Homo sapiens: one gene and its partners. The protein of the gene in region 3 purifies or fractionates together with the protein of the main gene of each other region. This does not show direct contact. Each region holds a gene or a part of one and is shown on either strand. Other genes may lie near its edges.

What was found.
Region 1: the proteins of CEP170 (region 3) and PCYT1A purify together in Homo sapiens (affinity purification with mass spectrometry; 3 studies listed by BioGRID and IntAct, with this or other methods). This does not show direct contact.
Region 2: the proteins of CEP170 (region 3) and AKAP9 purify together in Homo sapiens (affinity purification with mass spectrometry; 3 studies listed by BioGRID and IntAct, with this or other methods). This does not show direct contact.

The regions. Positions count from the first base shown.
Region 1 is NC_000003.12:196,242,665-196,246,321, forward strand, and holds part of PCYT1A (choline-phosphate cytidylyltransferase A), read right to left. Parts: intron 1-3,657. UniProt on the Homo sapiens protein: Catalyzes the key rate-limiting step in the CDP-choline pathway for phosphatidylcholine biosynthesis.
Region 2 is NC_000007.14:92,107,931-92,111,243, reverse strand, and holds the end of AKAP9 (A-kinase anchor protein 9), read right to left. Parts: intron 2,751-3,313; coding exon 2,611-2,750; intron 1,123-2,610; coding exon 1,085-1,122; 3' UTR 571-1,084; downstream 1-570. UniProt on the Homo sapiens protein: Scaffolding protein that assembles several protein kinases and phosphatases on the centrosome and Golgi apparatus. Required to maintain the integrity of the Golgi apparatus. Required for microtubule nucleation at the cis-side of the Golgi apparatus.
Region 3 is NC_000001.11:243,164,675-243,168,331, forward strand, and holds part of CEP170 (centrosomal protein of 170 kDa), read right to left. Parts: intron 1,443-3,657; coding exon 1-1,442.

The DNA of each region.
Region 1 (3,657 bases), on a different chromosome or scaffold from region 3:
AACCCATGATAACTGCCATTCAGAAAGACCCAGTCAATGTTCTCAGGCCCAGAAAAAGGACAATAGGCAGAGGCCAGGCCTCAGTGGACTTCATATCTCTCTTTGCTTTGCTCATAAATTCTACAATCTATTCACAAACCACCCAACCTAATGATTTATGGAGTATACATATGAAGTTAGCCAGCTGCTTTTGTAGCTATTTCTCCTAGTCTGCTAGAACTGTTACCCTCACTCTGTATACCAGTCATCTTGCTGTGGTCAATAGGGCCAGAGGGTTTGCTGGTGAACCGGTTAGTGGGTGGAGCCTAGGAAAGAAGGAAATCTCCCTGTCCTGGGTCTGGAAGGATTTGGTCAAATAAGGGTTTCTAAAAGTATGAGAAAGGCCAGGCACGGTGGCTCATGCCTGTAATCCCAGCACTTTGGGAGGCCAAGGCGGGCAGATCACGAGGTCAGGAGTTCAAGACTAACGTGGCTAACATGGTGAAACCCCGTCTCTACTAAAAATACAAAAAAATTAGCCAGGCATGGTGGCGGGCGCTTGTAGTCCCAGCTACTTGGGAGGCTGAGGCAGGAGAATTGCTTGAACCCAGGAGGCAGAGGCTACAGTGAGCCAAAATCGCACCACTGCACTCCAGCCTGGGTGACAAAGCAAGACTCTGTCTCAAAAAAAAAAAAAGTATGAGAAAGAGGTTACTTCTTTCTTAACTAGTTTCTCTCAGTCCGTGAGAAAAGAGGGAATATAAAAATAGCAACCACGAGCCCTCTGACTGGAATAGATACATCTATTGGCCTGAGAAATACAAACCGAAGGCCATAAGAGAAGTTTTCTCCCTCTCCCCTCTCCCTTCTCCCCTCTCCCCTCTCCCTCTCCCCACGGTCTCCCTCTCCCTCTCTTTCTATGGTCTCCCTCTGATGCCGAGCGGAAGCTGGACTGTACTGCCGCCATCTCTGCTCACTGCAACCTCCCTGCCTGATTCTCCTGCCTCAGCCTGCCCAGTGCCTGCCATTGCAGGCGCACGCCGCCACGCCTGACTGGTTTTCGTATTTTTTTGGTGGAGACAGGGTTTTGCTGTGTTGGCCGGGCTGGTCTCCAGCTCCTAACCGCGAGTGATCCGCCAGCCTCGGCCTCCCGAGGTGCCGGGATTGCAGACGGAGTCTCGTTCACTCAGTGCTCAATGCTGCCCAGGCTGGAGTGCAGTGGCGTGATCTCGGCTCGCTACAACCTCCACCTCCCAGCCGCCTGCCTTGGCCTCCCAAAGTGCTGAGACTGCAGCCTCTGCCCGGCCGCCACCCCGTCTGGGAAGTGAGGAGCGTCTCTGCCTGGCCGCCCATCGTCTGGGATGTGAGGAGCCCCTCTGCCCGGCCGCCCAGTCTGGGAAGTGAGGAGCGCCTCTTCCCGGCCGCCCATCGTCTGAGATGTGGGGAGCGCCTCTGCCCCGCCGCCCCATCTGGGATGTGAGGAGCGCCTCTGCCAGGCCACGACCCCGTCTGGGAACTGAGGAGTGTCTCTGCCCGACCGCCACCCAGTCTTGGAGGTGAGGAGCGCCTCTGCCCGGCCACGACCCCGTCTGGGATGTGAGGAGCGTCTCTGCCTGGCCGCCCATCGTCTGGGATGTGAGGAGCCCCTCTGCCCGGCTGCCCAGTCTGGGAAGTGAGGAGCGCCTCCTCCCCGCCGCCATCCCGTCTAGGAAGTGAGGAGCGTCTCTGCCCGGCCGCCCATCGTCTGAGATGTGGGGAGCGCCACTGCCCCGCCGCCCCGTTTGGGATGTGAGGAGCTCCTCTGCCCGGCCGCGACCCGGTCTGGGAAGTGAGGAGCGTCTCCGCCCGGCAGCCACCCCGTCCGGGAGGTGAGGGGCGCCTCTGCCCGGCCGCCCCTACTGGGAGGTGAGGAGCCCCTCTGCCCGGCCACCACCCCGTCTGGGAGGTGTACCCAACAGCTCATTGAGAACGGGCCATGATGACGATGGCGGTTTTGTCGAATAGAAAAGGGGGAAATGTGGGGAAAAGATAGAAAAATCAGATTGTTGCTGTGTCTGTGTAGAAAGAAGTAGACATGGGAGACTCAATTTTGTTCTGTACTAAGAAAAATTCTTCTGCCTTGGGATCCTGTTGATCTGTGACCTTACCCCCAACCCTGTGCTCTCTGAAACATGTGCTGTGTCCACTCAGGGTTAAATGGATTAAGGGCGGTGCAAGATGTGCTTTGTTAAACAGATGCTTGAAGGCAGCATGCTCGTTAAGAGTCATCACCACTCCCTAATCTCAAGTACCCAGGGACACAAACACTGCAGAAGGCCGCAGGGCCCTCTGCCTAGGAAAACCAGAGACCTTTGTTCACTTGTTTATCTGCTGACCTTCCGTCCACTATTGTCCTATGACCCTGCCAAATCCCCCTCTGCGAGAAACACCCAAGAATGATCAATAAAAATACATAAATAAATAAAAGAAGTTTTATCCTCAGGATCTATCATTTCACTACTTTTTTTTTTTTTTTTGAGACCGAGTCTCGCTCTGTCGCCCAGGCTGGAGTGTAGTGGCACAGTCTCGGCTCACTGAAACCTCTGCCTCCTGGATTCAAGCGATTCTCCTGCCTCAGCCTCCCGAGTAGCTGGGACTACAGGCGCATGTCACCCCGCCTGGTTAATCTTTGCATTTTTAGTAGACAGGGTTTCACCGTGTTGGCCAGGCTGGTCACGAACTCCTGACCTCAAGTGATCCACCTGACTTGGCCTCCCAAAGTGCTGGGATTACAGGCGTGAGCCACAGCGCCTGGCCATTTTACTGCTATGAATATCCTTTGCAAGGGCAAGAAGAGATGAATGATACTGGGGATCAATAATGTTGTTCGGAGGCGTGCTAAACTTCACTTACTCCTTCCTGTATGGGCCACCAGCCTTTTGCTGATAATTACTAAGATCACTATACCATCCCCGAGAGACCACTGTAGTGTGAAGCATGTTCATTGGGACTATGTCAGAGACTCTCAGCCAGCATCTCAATTACTCATGAACAACTTGTCAGGGATCCATAGGCAGCAAAGTAAAGAATAGGAGGCCGGGTGGATCACCTGAGGTCAGGAGTTCAAGACCAGCCTGGCCAAAACGGCGAAACACTGCCTCTACTAAAAATACAAGAAATTAGCCGGGCATGGTGGCGCGCACCTGTAATCCCAGCTACTCGGGAGGCTGAGGCAGGCGAATCACTTGAACCCGGGAGGCGGAGGTTGCGGTGATCCGAGATCACGCCATTGCACTCCAGCCTGGGCAACAGAGCAAAACTCTGTCTCAAAAAAAAAAAAAAAAAGAATGGGACAAGCAAAACTCAAGGTTGAGTATATATTGTTAACAAAGAGAAAAGGGGAGTTAGAAATTCCTCTAACTTCATACTTCTGTCTGGGCCTGTGGGCTGTGGTGCTGAGAATAAACTTGCTTACCACCTTTGGTGCCACTGGCTGCTAGGTGTTGATGTAGAAAAGCCAGAGAATTATAAAAGGTCTGTCCTAATCCTCAATAGTTTTAATAAATATCCCCTCTTCAGGCCTACCCACGTATTGCTTTAGAAGCACTTTGGCTGCCTTCATTCTTTCTGCCTCACTGAACAATTTACCTACAACATTCCACGCGCCCCTGTAGAGAACTGACAACATGCTTGCTATTT
Region 2 (3,313 bases), on a different chromosome or scaffold from region 3:
TGTTCAAGCATGTACAACTTTCTACCATGCCTGTTTGTGTTGGTATAAATCATGGAACATCAAATAATAAGACAAAATCCTCCAGGTGTAAGCATCAAATACTAGTCCTCTTGCTGTTTTAGTGAGTTGCCATGTTATTGAGGAGGACTCCAGATGAGAAATAACATTGCGATCTGTATTATCTCTGTGAGAGCCTCCCAGTCTGAATTTGGCTTGGACAACAGGGATACTGTTTAATTCGGCTGCAATGTGATTAAGATCTTTTGAGTTAATGATTTCTTCATCTTTTTAGTGGGCCATGGATTTGTGAGAACACATCTTTGGAAACAAGTAACACTAACTGTAATATAGTAAATACTGATTAATCATGAAATACCAATATAGCTTTTAAAAAACACTATGTAGATGTAAAGTTGATACAAAGACACATGGAAAACTTTCAACAGTATTAACTCTAAGATTAGGACAACTTTCTCTGAATCTCTCACTCCTACATATTTGACATAAGTAATGAGATGCTATGTACCAAGAACTATGGCTCAGTTAAAAATGAAGAAGGTTCAAATACAGTGTGGTGAAAATGGTGAAGTCATTTTTATTTCAGTACTTGACAAAATACCCCATAAAATTCAAAACTTCTACCATTATACAAAAATAGGTCTCTACAAGTGATATTATCTGTCTTCATCACCAGTAGAATATATTAGGCAAAACATGTAACTTCAGTAGCCTTATAAGAAAAGTGCAGGACACCTCGAGCTACACATTCAGCAGTATTGTAATGCGTAAAAGTTTAATCTTTTCACCCATTTGATAAATACACAAGGTTTATAATTTAATGTTTTAAATTAGCATTCCACAAATATACAGGTAATTCAATAATTATTGTGCATGAATACATACACAATGCTTATATATACAAATTCCAGTTTGTTTTCATGTGCTGGCAAGGGATTTGTATACAATCATAAGCTGTGTTCATATTGGTCCCATTGAATATTCACAATACAAAAGCACAAAAGAACCATTGATTTACAAAAGGAAATCTATTTAAAATCACTTCAATTAATGATGTTTCAAAGGATTATCTTCTCATGCCAGCATGAAATTGAGTAGTTGAACCTATGAGAGAAAAACAGGAAATTCAACTGATTTCAAATTACATTGCTACCTGTATCAGACCCACCAGAGTTCACACAAAGGAAATTATTATTATTCTCCATTTTTTTAAAGCCCTTTTTTTCCTTAAAATGTCCTCTTCATACTTAAACTGAGTCTCTCCCCACTACCCCCAAGGTGGAGTGTTACTCTGTTGCCCAGGCTGGAATTCAGTGGTGTGATCTTGGCTCACTGCAACCCCCGCCTCCTGGGTTCAAGTGATTCTCCTGCCTCAGCCTCCTGAGTAGCTGGGACTATCCACACATGCCACCATGTCCAGCAAATTTTTGTATTTTTAGTGGAGACGGGGTTTCACCATGTTGGCCAGGCTAGTCTCGAACTGGTTGGTCTTGAACTCCTGACCTAGTGATCCGCCTGCCTCGGCCGCCCAAAGTGCTGGGATTACAGGCATGAGCCACCGCGCCCAGCCCATATACTTAAGCTGACTTTTAAGAGATTTTGAATATATATGTAAAAATCACCATGACTGGCTCTATGGCAAGGTAGGTGAGACTAATATTTAGAGTTTTTTTAAAGTGCTCTCAAAGTTGGATGTTCTATACCTCATACATTTTTGAAAAATCTTTTGGTCTTCAAAATCTGGGTCTTGTGAAATTTGGATGCTCAAAACAAAACAAGCCTAGGCAAACCAACAAACTCAGCTATGATAATAAAAGTTTCCTATTACTACAAGATGCTTGGGTGTAAACAAATGATTTCTTGAAGGAAGAGATAAACTACTCAATGATTCAAAGTCTCTGAATCAGGAGTGAACTGAAGTGAGATAGGGAAAAGAGGTTTTCCTTCCATGAACAGGGAATCCACCTTTATTTTAAAGTATGACTTGTTTTTTGTTTTTGAACAAAGAAAAAATAATCCTTACAAAGTATTTTAAATGGGATAGTTTTTTTCGATGATACATAAAAGCACAATATAGTAGCAGGGATAATGGTTACATTAAGTGCTTAAAGTAAGTGCTTCCTCCTTAACTCCACCCGATTTGCATGCCTTACCACTTTCTTTTTTTTTTTTTTTTCTTTGAGACAGGGTCTCGCTCTGCTGCCCAGGCTGGAGTGCTGCGGCACGGCCTTACCACTTTCTGCCATGCGCTACTTAGGAATACGTTCTCCAGTTAGGCTCTGTAGACTCAGAGTACCTTGCACACTGGTGCTCATTGTGCATTTTGTGTCATCAGTCCGCTGAATGAACATAGTAGGAAATCATTTTTGGGAGGAGTGGGATCTGGGGTGATAAATCATATTTTCACTTAAATTATTTAAAGTCAGTTTCTCTGCTGGTTACAAGAGTTTAAGCTTTGGCTAACTTAATAATTAGCTCATGCACTAAACTGGAAGCTTTGATTATCCTAATGAGTGTGAAAGAATTTCAAAGAAAGGGGAGCTGTGGGTCTCGCACTGTGGTGCTGCCAAGATGTGGTTAAACTCAGAGCACCTGACTGTATAGTTCCAAGTCGTCTTTGCAGTGCCTCTAGCCGAGTGATATAATCTGTTAGGGCTCTGTCAGGATCGTAATTCTGAAGCTGAGAACATGCTAAAGAACCAGGATTGAAATCAGCTGGAGTGCCTGGGTACCTAAAGGATTAAAAATATGTACATGAATCAAGTTATCCAGAAATATGCATATAAGTTACCAACCTGCCTCCACTCCCTTCCCCAAAAAGGTGGGTCACTTGTACACACATAATGTATCTCCTCCAAGCTTCAGCTTTGGAGCTTGGGATGAGAAAGAGACAACTCTCCAATGAATTCAAAGATGCTACTAAGTCAACATAAGAATGTCCAATACAATGCTTGTGGCAGAGGTCTCAATAAATTGGGTATGTATAAATGTATCTTGTCATGAAGACTGTTAAGCTTTTCATAATGATCAGAGTATCAATTTTAGTCAATACTTTTCCCAATATCTAACCATAGCATACACTAAATAACACTTGGTCAGCTTGTTTGCTATACCCTTGGAAATCAGTTACAAATTTAAACACTGGTTTTTACATTTTTACATTAAGCCTTAGGTTATGTATATTTTTTTTCTTTTTTTTTTTTTTTGGAGACCAAATCTTGCTTTGTTGCCCAGGCTAGAGTGCAGTGGCGTGACCTCGGCTCACTGCAACCTCCACCTCCTGAGTTCAAGCGAT
Region 3 (3,657 bases):
TGGCCTTGGAAGGGTGGTTGATTTACTAGATGAACCAGATACCACCGGAGAAGTCTTAGATTTCGTTACTTTACTTCCTTCCAGTTTGGAATGTACATGCTCATCAGCTGAGGTAAGTGGAGTCCGTCCATGAGGTTTACAAGAGTAAGTTTCTTGATCAGATGACATAATATCAGAGATGGCAGAATGAGGTACACTAGAGGTTTGGTCATCATCTGTTAAGTCTACTGAGGGCTGTCTTATTCTCCCACTGGACTGAACAAATTTACGACCATCTGCTCTTGAACCCACATCTGTGGAACGACTTTTTGTTTTCTTTTCCATTTTTTCCCTAGCACCTGAAGATGATGATTTTGTAACATCTTTGGAAGGAGAACCTGTGGAACACCTATCTTTATAGAGGCTAGTGAAACTCTTTCGCTTTTGGGTTGACTTTCTTTCAGTTTCTCCAGTAACCAGACTGATTGTACTAGCTGTATCTACATCAGATTCTGGTGAAATAGAATTGTCTCTATTATAACTGGGAGTATCTGGTCCTTCATCAGTTTTATTATCTTCACGTAGTTTAGCTTCTAGAAAAGCCATTACTGCTTCTGTGTCTTTTAGAATAAGGGTTGTGTCCATACTAGAATCAGGATCCAAAGACTCACTTCTTTCTCGTATTCTACTTGCAGATGTTAATGCTAAAGAAGAAGGAGTAGAGGAAGTCTGTTTATTTATATGGGGAATAAGTTCTATGGGTATGTTTGGGCTGGGTTTTTCTATAGTGAAGCTCCCTTGTCGCACTAATGACTTGGAGGATTCCTTCTTGTCTCCTCCCTTTGGAGTCTGACTTTTCAGAATTTCCTCAGCTTTTCTTCTCTTGCTCTCACTTTGTGCCACTCTGTCTCCTTTGCTTGTAGAATGTCCTGAATTTTTTTCTGGAGGTTGTGATTCTTGTTTAAAAGTTTCCTCCCTACATTTATCTGTCTGACCTGAAACATTTTTGGAAGACAATTTAGTAGGTGTCCACTGAGCCTCCTCCCTTTGTTCTTGTTGTTGAAGTTTTGCTAATGTTTGCTTTACCAAAGAAGTTTCCTTATCAGTTTCACTTTTCTCTTTTCCAGGAGCAGAGCTGCCTAAGTGAAGTAGGGTTTTATTATCTCCACCAGTTTTGAGAGTCTCTCCATTTACTGCCCTGTTCATTTTACTCAAGGGTCTGTCAGCATCTTGTTTATCTTTCTGGTATACCTGTGTAGGTGTTTCTTTCTCCTGAAGTTCTGTGTCTTGTTTTTCTCCTATCTCTGACCTCTGTGTTACAACCTTTGCTCTGTGGCTCTCAAGAGACTTTTCTTCATTTGGAAGCTGGGGAAGAGTTCGTCTCCTTCTCTCTCCCTGGCTAGCCAAGGAAGTTGCAGAGCCAGTACTTCTCACTGTCATGCCAGACTCACTGATCTCTGTCTCTATGAAATAAAAACCACAAAGAAGGAATTGATTAAGACAAATAAAATAAAAATAAAAGGAGCATCATACAGTTGTCTGTCAGTATCCATGAAGACTGGTTCCAGGCCCCTTATTCCCCCAGGATACCAAATCCCAAGGATGCTTGAGTACCTTATATAAAGTGGTATAATATTTGTATATAACCTACTCACACCCTCCCATATACTTTAAATCATGTCTAGATTACTTATAATACCTAATACAATGTAAAAGCTATGTAAATAGTTGTTATACTGTATTGCTTAGTGAATAAGTACAAAAAAATAAAGACTACACACGTTCAGTGGGGACGCAATCATTTCTTTTTCCCCTCTCAAATATTTTCAATCCTCAGTTGAATTCACAGATGCAAAACCCACTAATACAAAACCTATGGCTAGAGAGGGCCAGCTATATTACATTACATTTTGAGATGTAAGTTAAAAATGACTTAAGTATACAAAACAAACGAGCCAGCATTGTGACGAAGTAGTTTAAGTACAATTTCAAGCTGCACAAATAAGCAATTCCTAGAGAAGTCAGGAAGGCCAATTGTATGAGATGAAAATTAGAGTCATCTGATCATTTTTCTCCTTTCATATATTTAATTTTCTATTTATGAATTGACAAAAATTATATATATTTGTGGTGTATAACATGATGTTTTGATATATGTATACCATTATGGAATGGCTAAGTCAAGCTAATTAATATATCCATTACCTCACGTACTTATCTTTTTTGTGGTGAGAACATTTAAGATCTACTTTCAGCTATTTCAAATACCCAAGGCATTGTTATTAACTATAGTCATAATGGTATAAAAGGGTCATCTGATCTTAAACCTAAATATATTGCTCTTCTTTCCTCTTAATGTGTTTTATAGAAGGGAAGTTCACTGTGTTCATTCTCACTTTTGTAACTTTCCATCCTTGAGGTTTGCTCAAAAAACCAGAATCTATTGTAGATTTATACAGAGAATGTCAAATAAACATTGTTTATTTTCTATATTTTCAACTACATAGTAGAGAAGAACAACATAACTAGTTTTTAAAAAGTATTATCTACTTGAAAGAATGATAATTTTGGATTTCCTAAGTAAAGTGAAAAATGCAGAACTTTTAACAACATTTTAAAAAAATCTATAGCCGATTAAAAGAATTTTAAAAATTGTAAGTATGTAACAGCAGACTTTTCATAGTTAGGACATAGCAAAATTTTATAAATTGAGGAATTTTTAAATTATAGTCTTCTGGTTATTAATGCCACATATGGAAATACAAAATCCCTTTCTTTTTTTTCAAGTAGAAGCCAATGAGAAAATATATATTTTGATTTTTCCACCTGAGAGAATTTGAGAATATTTAAGGATTTTCCTGACTATTAAAAATGGAATGTATTTCTGAGAAAAGGGAAACATCTTTTCAGGGAAATATAAATTAACATATAAAGCTTCCTAATCTTTTAGGGATAAATGGAGAAAAGATACTAGATATAGCTTCTGTGGGTCTTTTTTTTCCTCTTTACAATCCTAAAAGTTTAGTATTTAAATATCATATCAATACAATGGATGTGATGGAGGAAAATCCATACTGAACTGATAGATTTAACTTTAGTCATTAATCATGTTATATCTTGTTTTGTTTCTTCTTTCATATATCTTATCTCCTTAGTGCTAACTGAAGCATCTAGAATGTAATGGCTACTTTACCCTTTTGTATTTTTCCAGTATTTCTCATACTGCCCCCTCCTCATATACATTCAATATGCTTAACAAAAACGTTTTATTATTTAAGTAGATTTATCAGCTTATGTAAATAAGTTCATTTAAATATGATGACATAGAAATGAGATCATGAAAGCTAAGTGGTCTATTATTTTTTATAACAAGGGTAGAACTTTGCTTTTCACAGATAATACTTAATAATTTTATAACGGATTCTTTGGTAAAGTTATCTAGCCTTCTGTCTGGTTTCTTTGTTTCCTAAACACAGTTTATACGAACCAAATGACTCTGTTCCCTCAAAAGAATTTTTGGTCATACTATCAATAACTTCTAGATTCTAATATAAATAAATGACGTAGCTTTTCTAGTACACTGCTATGTAGCTTCCTCAAATACTTCTAATACTTACAAAATTCTTAAAACAGATTTTTGGGGTGCCACAAGCCTGAGACAAAACAAATTTCCATTTT